Linked DNA regions of Homo sapiens: region 1 is linked to region 2. Evidence: fine-mapped expression QTL. Tissue or cell type: whole blood. Region 2 holds a variant in brackets; the other region holds the start of a gene. All regions are shown on one strand. Distances are from middle to middle.

Evidence for each region. PIP is the estimated chance that this variant, and not a neighbour inherited with it, causes the effect.
Region 1: SLC1A5 starts here. The variant in region 2 is fine-mapped to the expression of SLC1A5 in whole blood (INTERVAL, PIP 0.99).

Annotation. Positions count from the first base shown.
Region 1 is chr19:46,785,136-46,794,138 of GRCh38, forward strand. It overlaps SLC1A5 (solute carrier family 1 member 5), which reads right to left and starts at 3,459. Exons shown (of 8, transcript NM_005628.3): 1 at 2,265-3,459. The coding sequence starts at 2,830. RefSeq lists enhancers at 1-32, 1-116, 117-718, 719-1,320, 3,127-3,728 and 1 more and silencers at 2,537-2,586, 2,597-2,646, 3,617-3,776.
Region 2 is chr19:46,817,481-46,827,708 of GRCh38, forward strand. No RefSeq gene overlaps it. Among named protein-coding and RNA genes, the nearest start is that of SNAR-E, 8.1 kb to the right of the region's middle. RefSeq lists enhancers at 4,090-4,209, 4,380-4,439. The variant G/C (reference allele first, on the strand shown) is at 4,335.

The DNA.
Region 1 (9,003 bases), 33 kb before region 2:
CTTTGGGAGGCCAAGGCAGACAGATCGCTTGAGCCAGGAGTTGAAGACCAACCTGGGCAACATGACGAAACCGTGTCTCTACAAAAAATACAAAAATTAGCCAGGCATGGTGGCATGTGCCTGTAGTTCCAGCTACTCTGGAGGCTGAGGTGGGAGGATCACTCAAGCCCGAGGAGGTTGAGGCTGCAGTGAACCAAGATCAAGCCACTGCATTCCAGCCTGGGACCGAGTGAGACTCTCTCAAAAAATATATATAGCAGCTAAGCCATCTACAGCACCTACCGTGTGGCAGGCAGGCATTTTGGCCTGTGCTTGACACAAATTAACCCATTTCATCCTCACGACAGCCTTGGGGATAATCACTATTACCCCATTTTACAGAAAAGGAAGCTGAGGCCCAGAAGGGTAAAGAAAATTGCCCAGCTGGGAAATAGCAGAGCTGGGATTTGAACCCAGCCAGCTGGCTCCATAGCCCCAAGCACTCCACATGCTCCCTCTCACCAATGACTGGTGTACAGCCAACGCCATGTGCCCATATACAATCTGTCAAATGTTAATAGTTTGGGTGCAGGTTAAGGTTCAGTAGTATGGGACAGTGTCCATGGATGGCCACCCATGCATCACGGTACAGTAAAATAACGTCATGGTAGAGGAATGAGTTTGGCCGGGTGCGGTGGCTCACGCCAGTAATTCCAGCCTTTTGGGAGGCTGAGGTGGGCAGATAACTTGAGGTCAGGGGTTCGAGACCAGCCTGGCCAACATGGCAAAACCCCGTCTCTACTAAAAACACAAAAATTATCCAGGCGTGGTGGCACACGGAAGGCTGAGGCACGAGAATCACTTAAATCCAGGAGGTAGAGGTTGCAATGAGCCAAGATCGCACCACTGCACTCCAGCCTGAGCAACAGAGACTGTCTCAAAAAAAAAAAAAAAAAGCATGAGTTTATTGGTGTGTGACCACATAGGTGTGTATGTGAGTGTGTATTGTGTGCTCTTGAGCCTGTGTTTAGATGTTGGCGTGGCTGGTGGCATCACTGAATGGCTGTGCTACAGGGGTCTTAGTACACAGTGAGCGTGTGTATGACCGCTGGTATCTGGCCATGTGTTTGTCGAGATGCTACAGCCTCAGCTGAGTGTCTGCGTGAATGTGTCCAGCTGTATGTCATTTGGTTATAAGCCTGTGTGGCAGGCCAAGTGTGAGCTACAGCTGTTTTGGCACGCAGGGGAGGCCTGTGCTCATAAACAGCCTCGGAGTGGGTGTGCCTGCCTGAAGGTCCGCCTGTACCACCCAGGCCCAGGCTGGGCCAGGACCCAGCTAATCTCCCCCAGCCAGAAGGTGCTCCCAGGCTTCAACTCGGGACACCAAGCCTGCCCCAGTCTCGCATCTCAGCCTGCACTGACGCCCCAGAGGCTGGAGAACCCTGTTCCGTGACTCATCATTTCCTTCCCCCAACTTCCAGGAAGTCCCCAACGTGGAGACACTGAATGAGCAAGCCCTAAAGGCAAGCGCAAGGGGGCCTCTGCCCCCCGCCCTCCTCAAAGTGGGGGAGGCCATTCTTGGGGGCGCGGGGCAGAGGCCAGGAGAAGGAAAAGAATCTGCTCCCCTTTCTAACTGGTCCTCTTCTGGGCTGCCTGCTAGGGGGTGGCCCAGACAGAGGAGGAAACGGGAGGGAAAGGCAGGGGTGGCAGGGCTGATCTAAAAGATAAAGGGGAAGCGGCCAGACCCCAGCTGAAATGGGCGGGAAGCGGAGGCCAAAAACAGAGCCTGGTTATGTCCGAGTGACACGTGGTGTGGGGGTGCCCCAGGGCTGGGAAGAGGGCCTGGTGGGAGTTACTCAGATCTCAGATCCTCCAGGGGCTCCTTACCCAAACTCTCCAACCCTGGCCCCAAATTATATCTAGAAGCCCCATCTTGGGGCCCTTGACCACGCAAAGATTCCCCCCGCAAAAGTTCCTCCTGGGGTCCCCTCCCCTCAGTGTCTTTCTCCCCTAGGCAGACCCTCCTATGTCTCCCCAAATCACTTTCTTCTCCCTCTATAAGACCCCACTTATGTACCCAGGCCCCCAGATTTAGAAACCCCTTCCCCAGGAGACTAGACTCACACTCCCGAGGGCTGGAGCCTCCCCTCAATATCCTGTCGAGTTTTCCTAAGACTCTAGAGGGAAGTCTCTGCTCCAGGGGCCCCAAAGCCCCGTCCTGTCCACGTGACCACTCCCGCCATCCGTAACACTCTTCCCCACCTCCCGGGGGAGCGGGAGCTGACCTCGCAAGATCCAGGAACGAATCGAGCACCTCCTTGCTGGGGGCATTTTCGGCACTGCCCGCGGCTCCCACGGAGGCGTTGATGGCGGCGGAGGCGGCGCCCGGCTGCAGAGCCAGCGCCAAGCCCACTCCGAGCGCCGACGCCAGCAGCGTGGTGACCAGGAAAAAGAGCAGCGCCCAGGCGCCCAGACGGCCGAGCGCGCCGGGGTCCAGGCTGGCGGCGCCGCCGATCAAGCTGCACACCACCAGCGGCAAGATGATCATCCGCAGCAGACGCAGCAGCAGCTCGCCCGGGAAGACGAAGGCGCTCAAGCGCTCCGGGCCCAACGCCAGCGCACCCCCGGCCCCCGACACCCCCAGTCCCAGCGCCACGCCGGCCACCACGGCCACCACTGTCAGCAGCACAAGCAGGTTGGCTCGAAGGCAGCGGCGCACCTGGTCCCGGGAACCGCAGTAGCCGCCTGCTGCCGCGCCTTGGTCCTCGATGGAGGCCAGCGCCAGGCCCCCGTTGGCGGTGGGCTCCGCCGCTGCGAGCCCCTTGGAGTCTCGAGGAGGATCGGCCACCATGATGGGAAGCACCGGGGTTTCTTAGCGCCTGGAAGCTGGCTGGGAGCGCTTGGGCTCCTTCCCAGGACCCGACGTTCCTAGGACTGAGTTGAGTAACAGCACCTGGAGACTGGAACTTTGGAGGGCTCCTTAGAGTTGTGAGTTCACAGCACTGAAGTTCCTTGGCTCTTGGAAGCTGGAGTGTTTAAATTCCCCAGGCTGGGCGCTGAGGCTTCTCTGCTCTGCCCCGTGTGCCAGATGTCCGAAAGCTGGGAGTTCGGAGCGCCCGGGTTCCTTGGCCCTAGGAGCTGGGAATACGAGAGTTTCTCTGGGTGGGACGTGGGGCCCTTGGCTCCAGGAGGTTGAGTGCCCCCAGATGGCGGAGGTCTGCAGGAGGCTAGGTTCTGGTGGCGCAGATCCCGGACGCCTGGATCCGGGAGGCGGGGACCCGGGCTGCCTGGGTCTTGGACACTGAGGGCTGGGATGCCAGAATCTGGGGGCCGGGAAGCGGACCTCCGGAAACAGGGGACCCAGGCTCTTAGGTCCGGGAGGGTGGGATGCGGGCCCCTGTGTACGGAAGGCGGTGGTCTGGTGTCCGGGAGTAGCGGTTACCAGCCAGAGAAAGCCTCCCGGGCGTGCCGCGTGGCTCTGAGCCCGTTTAGCGGAAGCTGCCAGGGATAAGGGTAGGGGGCGGGGCTTGAGAAGGCGGGGACCGACCCTCGGGCGCCGATTGGCTGCAGAGCGTTCGGAGACTGGACGAGTAGGGGCGGGGCTGATACCCGAGATGGGCCAGGTCCCCCATAGAAGGCAGATTAATAATACCCATCTCCAGGAGCCGGGCCCAGAGACGACGGGGCGGGGCCAGGAAGGGGCGGGGCCTTGGGAGGGTGCTGTTTCCCGCCAAAGGAACTGGGTTGTGGGTTGGAGCCCTTAAACCACAGGGGTTCGTTCCCTGGTGCGAGGGTCGCTAGAAAGCTCCGGTGGTCCTCGGTGATTCATTTGCAACTCAACTCAGCTTTGGAACTCCTCAGCCCTGAGTTTGGTCTTTAGTCGCCTCTGAGAACTTTAATTCCTCGAATATAAAGTGCAGGTGTTAAAAGCTTTTGTCTCATATGATTGCTGTAAGATTTAAATAAAATTGATGTATTTATTTAGGGAGCCGTGGCTCAAGCCTGTAATCCCACCACTTTGGGAGGTGAAGCGGGCGGATCACTTGAGGTCAGGAGGTCGAGACCAGCCTGGCCAACATGGTGAAACCCGTCTCTACTAAAAATACAAAAATTACCTGGTGTGGTGGCACGTGCCTGTAATCCCAGCTACTGGAAGCCTGAGGCAGGAGAATCGCTTGAACCCCAGAGGCAGAGGAAGTCATTCACCTTGAGGCCACACCTAGAGAGGATGACACGTGCATGCCCACCTCCCAAGCCCCTAACCGCACCCACTCTGCTGCCTCCCCAAATTCTCTGTTAGTGGCCGTTTGGGAGGTTAACAATGAATTATGATTCCTTACTCCACCTGACAGTGTTGAAATCCTCATTCCTTTCCCATCTCTAGCCTGTTCTGTGACATTTCAGGCTTTCATGCTTGCTCAAAGATTGTAGTGGTAATGTCAGAAGCTTCCTCCTACAGCAGCTGTGAGGCCTCAGGTAATTTACAACCTCTATGAGGCTCAGTCTTCATATGTGTAAATGGGAATAATAATAAGTCATACCGCCTTGAGTGTTGCAAGGGTTCAAATGAGATAATACGGCCGGGCGCAGTGGCTCACGCCTGTTATCCCACCACTTTGGGAGTTGATGCGGGCAGATCACTTGAGGTCAGGAGTTCCAGACGAGCCTGGCCAACATGGCAAAACCCTGTCTCTGCTGAAAATGCAAAAATTAGCTGGGTGTGGTGGCACATGCCTGTAATCCCAGCTACTCAGGAGGCTGAGGCAGAAGAATTGCTTGAATCCAGGAGGCAGAGGTTGCGAAGAGCCGAGATCTCACCACTGCACTCCAGCCTGGGTGACAGAGTGAGACTCCACCTCAAAAAAAAAAAAGTTATTTATTTGTGCTTTAAAATTTTTTGTTCTTTCTCTCTTCTTTTGTTTCTAACAAAAATGCCCTTCAGAAGAAAGTCAAATACTACTGCTGCGATTGCTGTTATTGTTATTATTACTGAAGAACAAGCTGGATTCAGTGGCATGCACCTGTAGTCCCAGGTATTTGGGAGGCTAAAGCAGGAGGATCCCTTGAGGCCAGGAGTTCAAGGCTGCAGTGAGCTATGATCGTGCCCACATTTAGCCACTAGACTCCATCCGGGGCAACATAGTGAGACCTTATCTTTAAAAACATGAAAATAGGCCAGGCATGGTGGCTCATGTCTGTAATCTCAGCACTTTGGGAGGCCAGAGTGGGCAGATCATGAGGTCAGGAGATCGAGACCATCCTGGCCAATATGGTGAAACTCTGTCTCTACTAAAAATACAAAAATTAGTTGGGCATGGTGGCATGCACTTGTAGTCCCAGCTACTCAGGAGGCTGAGGCAGGAGAATCGCTTGAACCCGGGAGGTGGAGGTTGCAGTGAGCCAAGATCACACCTCTGCACTCCAGCCTAGTGACAGAGTGAGACTCCGTCTCAAAATAAATAAATAAATATTTTAAAAAATTTTTCGGCCGGGCATGGTGGCTCACGCCTGTAATCCCAGCACTTTGGGAGGCCGAGGCGGGTGGATCACAAGGTCAGGAGATCGAGACCATCCTGGCTAACACGGTGAAACCCCGTCTCTACTAAAAATACAAAAAATCAGCCAGGCATGATGGCGGGCGCCTGTAGTCCCAGCTACTCGGGAGGCTGAGGCAGGAGAATGGTGTGAACCCGGGAGGCGGAGCTTGCAGTGAGCCGAGATCACGCCACTGCACTCCAGCCTGGGCGACAGAGCGAGACTCCGTCTCAAAAAAAAAAAAAAAAAAAATTTCACAGTGGCTTACACCCTTAATCCCAGCACTTTGGGAGGCCAAGGTGGGAGGCTCACTTGAGCCCAGGAATTTGAGACCAGCCTGGGCAACATGGCGAGACTCCGTCTCTACAAAAAAATTAAAAAATAAGCTGAGTGTGGTGGTATGCGCCAATAGTCCCAGCTACTTAGGAGGGTGAGGCGGGAGGATCGCTTGAGCCAGGAGGTCAAGGCTACAGTGAGCTGTAATCTCACCACTGCACTCCAGCTTAGGTGACAGAGCAAGACTCAGTCTAAAGGGAAAAAAGATTTAGGCTGGGAGCGGTGGCTCACGCCTGTAATCCCATCACTATGGGAGGCCAAGGCAGGTGGATCACTTGAGGTCAGGAGTTCAAGACCAGCCTGGCCAACATGGTGAAACCCCATCTCTACTAAAAATACAAAAACATGAAAATAGGCCAGGCACAGTGTCTCATGCCTGTAATCCCAGCACTTTGGGAGGCCTAAGTGGGCAGATCATGAGGTCAGGAGATGGAGACCATCCTGGCCAATATGGTGAAACCCTGTCTCTACTAAAAATACAAAAATTAGTTGGGCGTGGTGGCGGGCGGCTGTAGTCCCAGCTACTTGGGAGGCTGAGGCAGGAGAACTGCTTGAACCCAGGCGTCAGAGGTTGCAGTGAGCGGAGATCACACCACTGCACTCCAGCCTGGGCAACAGAGTGAGACTCTGTATCAAAAAAAAAAACAAAAAAACAAAAAATTCCTTGGCTGCTAGAGCTTGCATTCTAGTGCAGAGAGACAAGACAATAAACTTGGGCTTGGCCGGGTGCAGTGGCTTACACCTGTAATCCCAGCAGTTTGGGAGGCCGAGGCGGGCGGATCACTTGAGGTCAGGAGTTCAAAACCAGCCTGGCCGACATGGTGAAACCCCATCTCTACTAAAAATACTAAAAAATTAGCCGGGTGTGGTGGTCCACGCCTGTAATCCCAGATACTCGGGAGGCTGAGGCAGGAGAATCGCTTGAACCTGGGAGGCAGAAGTTGCAGTGAGCTGAGATCTCACCATTGCACTCCAGCCTGGGCAACAGAGCCAGACTCTGTATCACACACACACACACACACACACACACACACACAAAATCCTTGGCTGCTAGAGCGTGCATTCTAGTGCGGAAGAGACAAGACAATAAACTTGGGCTGTCAGCTGGAACTAAGCGTTGGGAGAAAGCAAAAGCATCCTATGAGTGACAGAGTGAACAGTTCAGCCACTGGAAGGAAGTGACATCTGCACTGAGATCTGAAAGATAAGAAGGAGCCCATGGCATAATGTGGAAACATTCAAAGGACGCGTGTGAAGCCCTGAGGCAACAGAGAGGTTTCCATCTCTGTTAGCAGTGCTCACAGACATGGTTTTATCCCCACTAATCCAGGAGACCAGCTCACACTCCCATTTTCCTGATTTGGAAGCAGATAAGGGTAATGAGGCTTGCTGTGGCCCAAACCCCAGGCATAAGCAAGAAATCTGAACTCAGATGTTTCTGATCCTTGTCTGCATCTCCTATCAGACACCCTGGCTACCCCTGCACTCGGCTGTCTCCAACTAGACATTTCCTTCAAGGGACAGTCATGTATTCTGAGCCCAGTGTTGGGTCCTGCGATGGGTGATACCAGGGACCCAGTGGCGAACAAGACAGTTCTGGCCCCGTTCTGCTGGGACTCAAAGTTCAGGGGGGGACACAGATAGTGATGATACAGAGTGGGCAGGGCTGGGATGGGGGAGCCCAGAAGGGATGCTTGACCAGGCTTGGGGGTCAGGGAGAGCTTCCTGGAGGAGGAGGCATCGGAGCTGGGATATGAAGGAGTTGGACCAATCCCAGGGAAAGAATATTCCAGACAAAGAGAATAGCACATGCAAAATCCCAGACTTCTGGCCAGGCATGGTGGCTCACGCCTGTAATCCCAGCACTTTGGGAGACTAATGCGGGTAGATTGCTGGAGACCAGGAATTCCAGACCAGCCTGGCCAACATGGCAAAACCCTGTCTCTTCTGAAAATAAAAAGTAAAAAAAATAGCCAGGACTAATGGCACACGCCTGTAATCCCAGCTATTCTGGAGGCTGAGGCAGGAGAATCACTTGAACCCAGAAGGCAGAGGTTACGGTGAGCCAAGATTGCACCACTGCACTCCAGCCTGGGCAATAAAGCAAGACTCTGTCTAAAAAAAAAAAAAAAAAAAAAATCCCAGACTTCAGAAGAGTCTGGAATATTTCAAAGCACAGATCTAACTGGGCCACCCCTACTCTCTGAACAGCCCCAGTGGCCTCCCTCAGGATGAAAACCACTCTTCAGCTAGGCATCTGTCCGCTTGGTGATTCATTTATTCATTCATTCAACAAACCACATCCACAGAATAGAAGACTGAGAGACATCAAATAGAAGGAGACGGATGCCCATGAGCTGACATGGGATCGTTGTGATGACTCATCTGGCCAATATTTATCAAACACTGAGAAAAACAGATGAGGAGCCGGGAGCAGTGGCTCACTCCTGGAATCCCAGCACTTTGGAAGGTTGAGGTGGGTGGATCTCTCAAGGCCAGGAATTCAAAACCAGCCTGGCCAACATGGTGAAACCTCATCTCAACTAAAAATACAAAAATTAGCGGGGCGTGGTGCTACCTACCCGTAATCCCAGCTACTCGAGTGGCTGAGACAGGAGAATCACTTGAACCTAAGAGGCAGAGGTTGCAGTGAACCAAGATTGCACCACTGCACTCCAGCCTGGGCGACAAAGCATGAAAAGAAAAAAAGGCAAAGAAAAACAGATGAGAAAAACACGAGCAAAACAGATGAAAATCCCTTCTCTGCTAGCACTGATATTCTAGCAGCAGGACACGGTCAATAAATACTAAACATAATATGCATGTAGGCTAAGTGGGTTATCTGGCTTGTAACTTATTGTCACAAAGCAGAAAGTGCTGTGGAGGGAAATATATATGTATGTATGCATGCATTAGGAAAAGTGAGGAATTAGATGAATGAAGGGTAAATTGCAATAATAAATCAGGCTGGGATCAGTGGTTCACAACTATAATTCGAACACTTTTGGAGGCCAAGGCAGGAGGATCACTTGAGCTCTGGAGTTCAAGGTTATAGTGAGCTGTGATCGTGCCACTGCTGCACTCCAGCCTAGGGAACACAGTGAGACCTTGTCTCTAAAAAAATAAAAATTAGGTGGTCACAAAAGTATAGAG
Region 2 (10,228 bases):
GCGGGCGGATCACGAGGTCAGGAGATCGAGACCATCCTGGCTAACATGGTGAAGCCCTGTCTCTACAAAAAAAAAAATTACAAAATATTAGCCAGGTGTGGTGGCAGGCACCTGTAATCTCAGCAACTCAGGAGGCTGAGGCAGGAGAATTGCTTGAACCTGGAAGGTGGAGGTTGCAGTGAGCCGAGATCACGCCATTGCACTCCAGCCTGGGCTACAAGAGTGAGATTCCGTCTCAAAAAAAAAAAAAAAGAAAGAAAGAAAGAGTATAAGGCACTCTGAGAGGCTGAGGCGGGCGGATCACTTGAGGCCAGGAGTTCGAGACTAGCCTGGCCATCATGGCGAAACCCCATCTCTACTAAAAATATAAAAATTAGCTGCTTGTGGTGGTGCGTGCCTATAGTCCCAGCTACTCTGAGGCACGAGAATCACTTGAATCCAGGAGACAGAGGTTGCTGTGAGTAGAGATCACACCACTCCACTCCAGCCTGGGTGACAGAAAAAAAAAAAAGAAAGAAAGAGTGTATAAGGCTGGACACAGTGGCTTATGCCTCTAATCCCAGCACTTTGGGAGGCGGAGGCTTTCAAATCACTTGAGGCCAGGGGTTTGCGACCAGCCTGGCCAACATAGTGAGACCTCACGTCCACTAAAAAAAAAAAATACAAAAAATTAGCTGGACATGGTGGCACACACCTGTAATCCCAGCTACTTGGGAGACTGAGGCATGAGAATCGCTTGAAACAGGGAGGCAGAGGTTGCAGTGAGTTGAGATCACACTATTGTACTCCAGCCTGGGTGACAGACTAAGACTCTTTCTCAAAAAAAAGAAAGAATATAGTTCAGCCGGGCACAGTGGCTGATGCCTGTAATTCCAGCACTTTGAGAGGCTGAGGCGGGAGGATGCCTTGAGCCCAGGGGTTTGAGACCAACCTGGGAAACAGCAAATCCCCGTGATATGATTTGGGTGTGTGTCCTAACCCAAATCTCATGTAGAATTGCAATACTCAGCCAGGTGCGGTGGCTCACGCTTGTAATCCCAGCACTTTGGGAGGCCGAGGCGGGTGGATCGCAAGGTCAGGAGTTCAAGACAAGCCTGGCCAAGATGGTGAAACCCCGTCTCTACTAAAAATATATAAATTAGCTGGGTGTGGTGGCACGTGCTTGTAATCCCAGCTACTCAGGAGGCTGAGGCAGAGAATTGCTTGAACCCGGGAGGCAGAGGAAACGCACAAAGCAAGGCAGCAAAAGCAGAGATCTATTTTAAAGGAAAGCACACTTCACAGGGTGGGAGTGGACTCAAGCTAGCAGCTGAAAAGTGTCCGTTACAGAATTTTTGGGGATTTGAATACCCTCTGGAAGTTTCCCATTGGCCTGTGACCAGTCTGATTGGTTGTAGGAGAGGACCAATTCGAATGAAGAGTAGGCCTGTAACCAGTCTGATTGGTTGTGGGAGAGGACCAATTAGAATGATGCATAGGCCCGCAGCCAGTCTGATTGGTTGCAGGAGGGGGCCAATCAGAATGAAGAGTAGGCTCAGGACCAGTCTGATTGGTTACAGGAGGGGACCACTCAGAGGTACTTTCATTTTTCAACAGCCATGCAGAAAAAGGAGGGTTTGAAAGGGGAGTAGCCTCTGATATCCAGTCATCATGAATTGGCCTTAGGCTCTCTGGCTCCAGACCCTATTCTCCTGCCTCAGTTAGAGTGATGCAAGGAGGGCCTTGAGCTGAGGAATGTGGACAGCTTCCTGAAGCTGGACAGGGCAAGAGAGCCTCCAGGAGAAGCCCTAGAGTCTCCAGAAGGGATGCAGCCCAGCCAACACCTTGATATTAGCCCTGTAAAACCCATTTTGGGGGCCTGGGGCAATGGTTTATGCCTGTAATCCCAGCACTTTGGGAGGCCGAGGCAGGAAGATCGCTTGAGCCCAGGAGTTGGAGACCAGCCTGGGCAACATAGGAAGAGTCTCTACAAAAAATTTTTTAAAATTAGCCGGGCATGGTGGCACACACCTGTAGTCTCAGCTACTTGGGAGGCTGTGACAGGAGAACTGCTTGAGCCCAGGAGGCTGAGGCTGCAGTGAGCCATGATCAGGCCACTGCACTCCAGCCTGCATCATAGAGCCAGACCCTGTGGTAAAAAAAAAAAAAAAAAAAAACCTCCAGAACAGTAAGGTAGTAAATAAATCTGTCTCCTATGGAGCCACTAAGTGTATGGTCATTTGTTACAGGAGCAATAAGAAACCAATACCCTTGGCTGTGCACGGTAGCTCACCCTTGTAATCCCAGCACTTTGGGAGGCCGAGGCAGGCGGATCACCTGAGGTCAGGAGTTCAAGACCAGCCTGGCCAACATGGAGAAACCCCGTCTCTACTAAAATACAAAAAAAAATCAGCTGGGTGTAGTAGTGGTGGGCGTCTGTAATCCCAGCTATTCAGGAGGCGAGACTGAGGCAGGAGAATCACTTGAACCCGGGAGGCAGAGGTTGCAGTGGGCCGTGATCACGGCACTGCACTCCAGGCTGGGTGACAGAGCGAGACTTCGTCTCAAAAAAAAAAAAAAACAAAAAAAGCCAGTCACAGTCTGCATGGAACAGAGGAAGAGCGGGTGGAAGATGAGGTCAGACAGAGAACAGGGAGCTGGTGAGTCATGGTGAAGATGTTGTCTTTTAGTGAGTGTGGCAGGAGCCACAGAAGGGATTTGAGGAGGAGAATGACATCATGTCACTTCTGTCAAAGGATTCTGCTGCCATATGGGGACCTTTCTGTTGGGGACAAGGGCAGAAGCAGCGAGGAGGTGACTGCAATTTTCCAGGTGAGAAATGATCATGGCTAGACTAGCTCTGGGGGTTCAGACTTTGTTTTTGTTTTTGTTTTTGTTTTTGTTTTTGTTTTGAGGTGGAGTCTCGCTGTGTCTTGTCCAGGCTGGAGTGCAATGGTGCGATCACGGCTCACTGCAGCCTCCATCTCCCAGCTTCAAGCGATTCTCCTGTCTTAGCCTTCCGAGTAGCTGGGATTACAGGCGTGTGCCACCACACCTGGCTAATTTTGTATTTTTTAGTAGAGACGGGGTTTCACCATGTTGGCCAGGCTGATATCGAACTCCTGACCTCAGGTGATCCGCCTGCCTAGGCCTCCCAAAGTACTGGGATTACAGGCGTGAGCCACGGCGTCCAGCCTTTGGGGGGTCCGACTTCGGGTGCATTTTGAAGGTCAACAGGATTTCCCCTGGATGGGATGTGGGGTGTGAAAGCAGAGAGGAGTCATGAGCCCTTTCTAAGTTTCCAGACAGCATGCTTGAACACACGATGGTTTCTCTGGGGCTCAAGGACATTAGGCTACTCCTGGCCCTTAGCGTGTAGCTGTACACAGGAAGTGTCCTGCTGTGCTGTATTAATTAAAGTGGATGTTGTCAGCCGAGTTGGAGACATCCCGGGGGAGGAAAGGCCGGGCTGACCCTGGTTAACTTCAGGCAGGTGTCAGGCATGCAGCGAATGTCATCTTCCGCCTCTCATTCTCCCTCTGGGCTGGGCCTGCCTCTTCTTTCCCCAGCTAGCAAATAAATCATCTCTCCCATCTCCACCTGGAATTCATTCTCACTCATGTTTAATGAGGCTACCACACCCTTCTGCCAGGTGTGTCTTCACCCAGGTCGCTGATAACTACAAATAGGTTATATTTCAACTCTTTTGAGTATGCTGTGAGGTAGAGATCCAATTTCCTGCTGCGTGTGCAGAACAGAAGACAACTGTCTCAAACAAAAAGAAAAACCAAAACAATTATTTTAGGCCTGGCGCAGTGGCTCACACCTGTAATCCCAGCACTTTGGGAGGCTGAGGCAGGAGGCCGAGCTGGAGCTCAGTAGTTCGAGACCAGCCTGCGCAACATAGGGAGACCCCTGTCTCTGCTAAAAATTTTAAAAATCAGCCTAGCGTGGTGGTGCACGCCTGTAGTCCCAGCTACTAGTGAGACTGAGGCAGGAGTGATGGCAGTGGCTGCTGTCATTACACCGGCTGCAGCAGGGAGGTGCGGCTGGGGCTACACACTCCATGGAGCCGGTGGAAGCCCTGCCCCTTCTGAGCTGTGGTGGGAGTTCCCCAGATGCCACTGCAGCCGCCCAAACCGCCACTGTGGATTGAGCCTTCCTGTGCTCTTGCAGGGGCCAGAAGTAGGTAGGGTCTGCCCTCCCGGGTGCAGCTGCAGCTGCCCCCATGGCTGCCAACCTAGGCCTCCAGCTCCACAGAGTGAGCAAGAGCCGGGGACAAGTGGGAGCCCCACCCCTTCCGAGTTGGCAGGGCAGGAGCTCCCCGGATGCAGCTGTGGCCGCCCTCTGAGGCT[G/C]AGGACCTGGGCCTCTCTGCAGCCTGCACTCTCAGAGGCCGGGAAGGCCCCCCCAATCTCTGCAGACTGCTGGGTGTCTTCTCCTGCTGCCTGGCCTCTCTTCTCTCCCAGCGCCAGCTCTGATCTGGGATCGGGGTTGGGGTCCAGTCCTGGGGCCATGAATGGCAGCAGGAGGCAGACGGATTCCTGGGCAGAAGTTGGTGGGGGGTCCCTAGTAAGGCCCCACCTTCTTGCCAGGGAGGGCCTGAAGGCTGGGGGCCAGGCTGCCAACCCCACAGACAAGAGTGGGGACTTGTACCTCCTCTGGGCCCACGCATGGCAGCCCATGGACCAACCAGCACGTACTTCCTCCTCTCTGAGGTCCATAAAAGCCCCAGGCTCCACCAGAGCAGGGCAGAGGGCAGAGGACAGAGAGACAATGGGATTACCACCTGCACAGAGGAGCTACCCTCTCTACTGAGAGCTTCAGAGACCTGCAGAGACGCCTACATGACCTGCCTGCCGAGAGGAACCACCCTCTTCAGGGCCTCATCTCTGCTGAGAGCTGAACACTCGATGGGGTGACCTGCCTACTGAGAGGAGCTGCCCACTGACGGTCTCCTCTGAGCTGTTCTAAGACTAAATAAAGCTCCTATTCATCTTCTTCACCCTTCACTTGTCTGTGTACCTCATTCTTCCTGGACACAGGACAAGAACTTGGGCAAAGGCACTGCAGCCACAGAGGTTTCTGGCCAGAAAAGCAACACCCCAAAGATCCCGTAACAGGAGGATCACTTGAGCCCAGGAGGCGGAGGCTGCAGTGAGCTGAGATTGCACCACTGCACTCCAGCCTGAGTGACAGAGCAAGGCCCCAACTAAAAAACAAAAAACAAAAAAAGCCCAGATATTTTATAATAAAAAAAAAATTTTATGGCTGGCCACGGTGGCTCACGCTTGTAATCCCAGCACTTTGGGAGGCCAAAGTGGGCAGATCACTTGAGGTCAGGAGTTTGAGACCAGCCTCACCAACACGGTGAAACCCCATCTTTACTAAAAATACAAAAATTAGCCAGGCATAGTGGCACACGCCTGTAATCCCAGCTACTGGGGAGGCTGAGGCACGAGAATTACTTGAACCTGGGAGGCAGAGGTTGCAGTGAGCTGAGATCGTGCCACTGCACTCCAGCCTAGGCAACAGAGTGAGACTCTGTCTCAAAAAAATAAAATAAAATAAAATAAAAAATAAAGTGAATGGGAAGACACAGAGTCTAGCACTCTAGAAATCTGGGTTCCAGTCTCATCTGCTCATTGTGTGTCCTTGGGCAAATGATCTTCCTTATCTACAAAGAGGAGATAATACTCAGAATTGCAATGCTAATACCAAGAGCCACTTCACAGCGTCATTACAAGATTAAATGGGATTATGCCTTTAAAGCCTTGGAAGCTGCTGGGCCTAGAGCAGGAGCTCCCCCTAACAGTTCAGAAGCTTCCTTGAGGCTGGGCTCGGTGGCTTACACCTGTAATTCCAGCACTTTCGGAGGCAGAGGTGAGCAGATCACTTGAGCCCAAGAGGTTGAGACCAGCCGGGGCAACATGATGAAACCGCCATTTCTTTTTTTTTTTTTTTTTTTGAGACTGTGTCTCGTTCTGTTGCCCAGGCTGGAGTGCAGTGGCGCGATCTTGGCTCACTGCAAGCTCTGCCTCCTGGGTTCACACCATTCTCCTGCCTCAGCCTCCCAAGTAGCTGGGACTACAGGCGCCCGCCACCACGCCTGGCTAATTTTTTTTTTTTTTTTGTATTTTTAGTAGAGACGGGGTTTCACCTTGTTAGCCAGGATGGTCTCGATCTCCTGACCTCATGATCTGCCCACCTCGGCCTCCCAGTGTACTGGGATTACAGGCGTGAGCCACCGCGCCCGGCCTTGAAACCACCATTTCTACAAAAAACACAAAAAATTAGCCAGACTTGGTGGCATACACCTGTAATCCCAGCTACCCAGGAGACTGAGGTGGGAGAATCACCCAAGCCTGGGAATTCAAGGCTGAAATGAGCCATGATAGTGCCACTGCAGTCCAGCCTGGGCAACAGAGTGAGACCCTGTCTCAAAAAACAAATAAAACCGCCAGGCACGGTGGCTCACACCTGTAATCCCAGCACTTTGGGAGGCCGAGGTGGGCGGATCACGAGGTCAGGAGATGGAGACCATCCTGGCCAACATGGTGAAACCCCATCTCTACTAAAAATTCAAAGAATTAGCTGGGCATGGTGGCACGTGCCTGTAATCCCAGCTACTCAGGAGGCTGAGTTAGTAGAATTCCTTGAACCAGGGAGTCAGCGGTTGCAGTGAGCCAAGATGGCGTCACTGCACTCCAGCCTGGCGACAGAGAAAGACTCTGTCTCAAAAAAAAAAGAAAAAAGAAAGAAAAAGAAACACCGTCTCTAAAAATACAAAAATTGGCCAGGCATGGTGGTGGGCACCTGTAATCCCAGCTACTTGGGAGGCTGAGGCAGGAGAATTGCTTGAACCTGGGAGGTGGAGGTTGCATTGAGCCGAGATCGCGCCATTGCACTCCAGCCTGGGAGACAGAGTGAGAGTCTGTCTCAAAAAGAAACAAAAACAAAAACAAGAAGCTTCCTTGTTTGGTGGCTTTCTCAGGTTCCTCTTCGACTTTCTGTTCTCTAAACCCTGGAGCCCCTCAAAAGCCCAGAACTGACTCTGGCCTGTGCTTTAGTGCAGTTGCACCAGGGTTGCAAACACATGGCCTGAGGGCTCCATCCAGCCACCACATTTCGTTTGCCACCCCAGAGTATTTTTAAGTTTTTTGGTTTGTTTTTTTTTTGAGATGGAGTCTCGCTCTTGTCACGCAGGCTGGAGTGCAGTGGCACGATCTCAGCTCACTGCGGCCTCTGCTTCAGCCTCCCAAGTAGCTGAGATTACAGGCGTGCACCACCATGCCCGGCTAACTTTTTTATTTTTAGTAGAGATGGGGTTTCACCATGCTGGCCAGGCTGACCTCAGATGATCCGCCTGCCTCGGCCCCCCAAAGTGCTTGGATTACAGGCATGAGCTACCACGTCTGGCCCCCATGTCTTAAAAGAAAATAAAAGACAGGTGATCTCCACTCCACAGGCTCCACCACCCGCGTGGTCTTAAGGGCACCAACTTGAGTGGCTGTCACTCTCAGCTGACTGAGACTTACTCTTGCTTCCCATTTCACTGAGAAGAAGGAAGTCATTGGAGTAGGGACTTTTGGGAACTCCCCACACCAACACCACCACCACCTGCCTTGGCGCCCACGCACCCCTTCCTCCCAGATGCCTCTCGTGTGCTTGGATAATCCCAGCTGCGCCTTCCATCCCTCTCCCATCTCTTTCCTGCATCTTCCGGTTTCCCCTTGTCTGTTGCATCATCCCCATCAGCATAAAACTGATGATTTGAGCTGAGCGCGGTGGCTCACACTTGTAATCACAGCACTTTGGGAGGCTGAGGCGGGCGGATCACTTGAGGTCAGGAGTTTGAGACCAGCCTGACGAACATGGCGAAACCCAGTCTCCACTAAAAATACAAAAAATTAGCGGGGTATGGTGGCGGGCGCCTGTGGTCCCAGCTAGTTGGGAGGCTGAGGCAGGAGAATCGCTGGAGCCCAGGAGGCAAAGGTTGCGGTGAGCCGAGATCGCACAACTGCACTCCAGCCTGGGCATCTGTCTCAAAACAAAACAAAACAAAACAAAACAAAAACCTGCTGTGATATCATCCACTCCACCAAACACCCTCCAATCTCATTCCCCCCTCTAGCGACTATTTCTCTTCTCCCTTTATAGCAAAACTTCCTCTAAGGTTTTTTTTTTGTTTTTTTTTTTTTTATTCAACATTATCATCAGACACTTATATTTAGCCATCAACAGCATGGGTGCAAAACAAAAATCTACATTAAAACCCTTTGTTGGAATGCTTTGCACTTTCCACAGAAGAGAAACTGAAATAACCTGTTATACGATTAGTCACAAATACAGTCCTGGAGTTTTTTGTTTTTGTTTTTTGTCCATATACATGAGTATTGTCTCCAATACATCTTCCACTGGGTATGGTGGCTCATGCCTGCAATCCCAGCACTTTGGAAGGCTAAGGCGGGAGGATTGCTTAAGCCAGGGAGTTTGAGATCAGCCTAGGCAACATAGTGGAACTTCGTCTTTAAAAAATATTAAAAAATCAGGAGCCGAGGGTGGTGGCTCACGCCTGTAATCCCAGCACCTTGGGAGGCTGAGGTGGGTGGATGATTTGAAGTCAGGAGTTCAAGACCAGCCTGACCAACATAGTGAAACCCCATCTCGACTAAAAATATTTTAAAAATAGCCGGATGTGGTGGTTCACGCCTGTAATCCCAGGTACTCGGGAGGCTGAGGCAGGAGACTCCCATGAACTAAGGAGGCAGAGCTTGCAGTGAGCTCCAGCCTGGGCGATGGAGGGAGACTGTGTCTCAAAAAAAAAAAAAAAAAATAGGCAGGCATGGCGGCACGCACCTGTGGTCCCAGCTACTCGGGAAGCTGGGGTGAGAGGATTGCTTGAGCCCAGGGGTTGAGACTGCAGTGAGCTGTGATCATGCCACTGCACTCCAGCCTTGTCAACAGAGTGAGAGCCTGTCTCAAATCAAACACGGCCGGGCGCGGTGGCGCATGCCTGTAATCCCAGCACTTTGGGAGGCCGAGGCAGGCGGATCACAAGGTTGGGAGATCAAGACCATCCTGGCTAACACGGTGAAACCCCGTCTCTACTAAAAAATATTAAAAAAAATTAGCCGGGCGTGGTGGCTGGCACCTGTAAATCTCAGCTACTCAGGAGGCTGAGGCAGGAGAATGGCGTGAACCCGGGAGGTGGAGCTTGCAGTGAGCCGAGATCGCGCCACTGCACTCCAGCCTGGGCGACAGAGCGAGACTCCGTCTCAAAAAAAGCAAACAAACACAAAAAACACACCTTCTTCATAACAGACAGGCCCTGCCACCCCTGTGCCTGGCTGAGTTCACAAGTCTGTTTGTAACCTGAGCTTCCCTGTCATTTCCCTGGCTCTGTCTGCTGGCTAAGCTTCATTTCCCCAAAGTAACTAAAGCTTTCTGCCACCGCCCTGGCCACCAGGGCTGCTGGAACTGCCATAGCCATCTTGGTTTCATGTTTTGGCAAAATATTGGCCTCCATCACCATAGGGGCCAGGGCTTCTGCCTCCAAATCCTCCTCCCTTCATGGATCCAAAATTCGAAGACTGATTGCTGTTATGGCCAAGATTACTACAGCTTTTGCCACCTCCAAAACTACTTCCATCATTACTGTGATGGGGTTTTGTTTGTTTGTTTGTATTTGTTTTTTTGTTTTTTTGTTTTTGTTTTTGACAGAGTCTTGCTGTGTCGCCCAGGCTGGAGTGCAGTGGCACGATCTCGGCTCACTGCAACCTCCACCTATGGGTTCACACCATTCTCCTGCCTCAGCCTCCCAAGTAGGTGGGACTACAGGTGCCCACCACCACATCTGGCTAACTTTTGTATTTTGTATCTCTTCCTGAAACACCTGTGCAGACACAAACAGAAATAATGTTTTACCAGCTATGTGGGCACCCCTTAACCCAATCAAGTTGACACATACAATAAACCATCACTGCTGGGTGCAGCGGCCCACGTCTGTCATCTCAGCACTTTGGGAGGCCGAGCCACGTGGATCACCTGAGGTCAGGAGTTTGAGGCCAATCTGGCCAATATGGCGAAACCCTGTCCCTACTAATAATACAAAAATTAGCCAAGCGTGGTGGCAGGCGCTTGTAGTCCCAGCTACTCGGGAGGCTGAGGCAGGAGGGTTGCTTGAACCTGGGAGGCAGAGGTTGCAGTGAGCCGAGATCACGCCATTGCACTCTAGCCTGGGCGACACAGC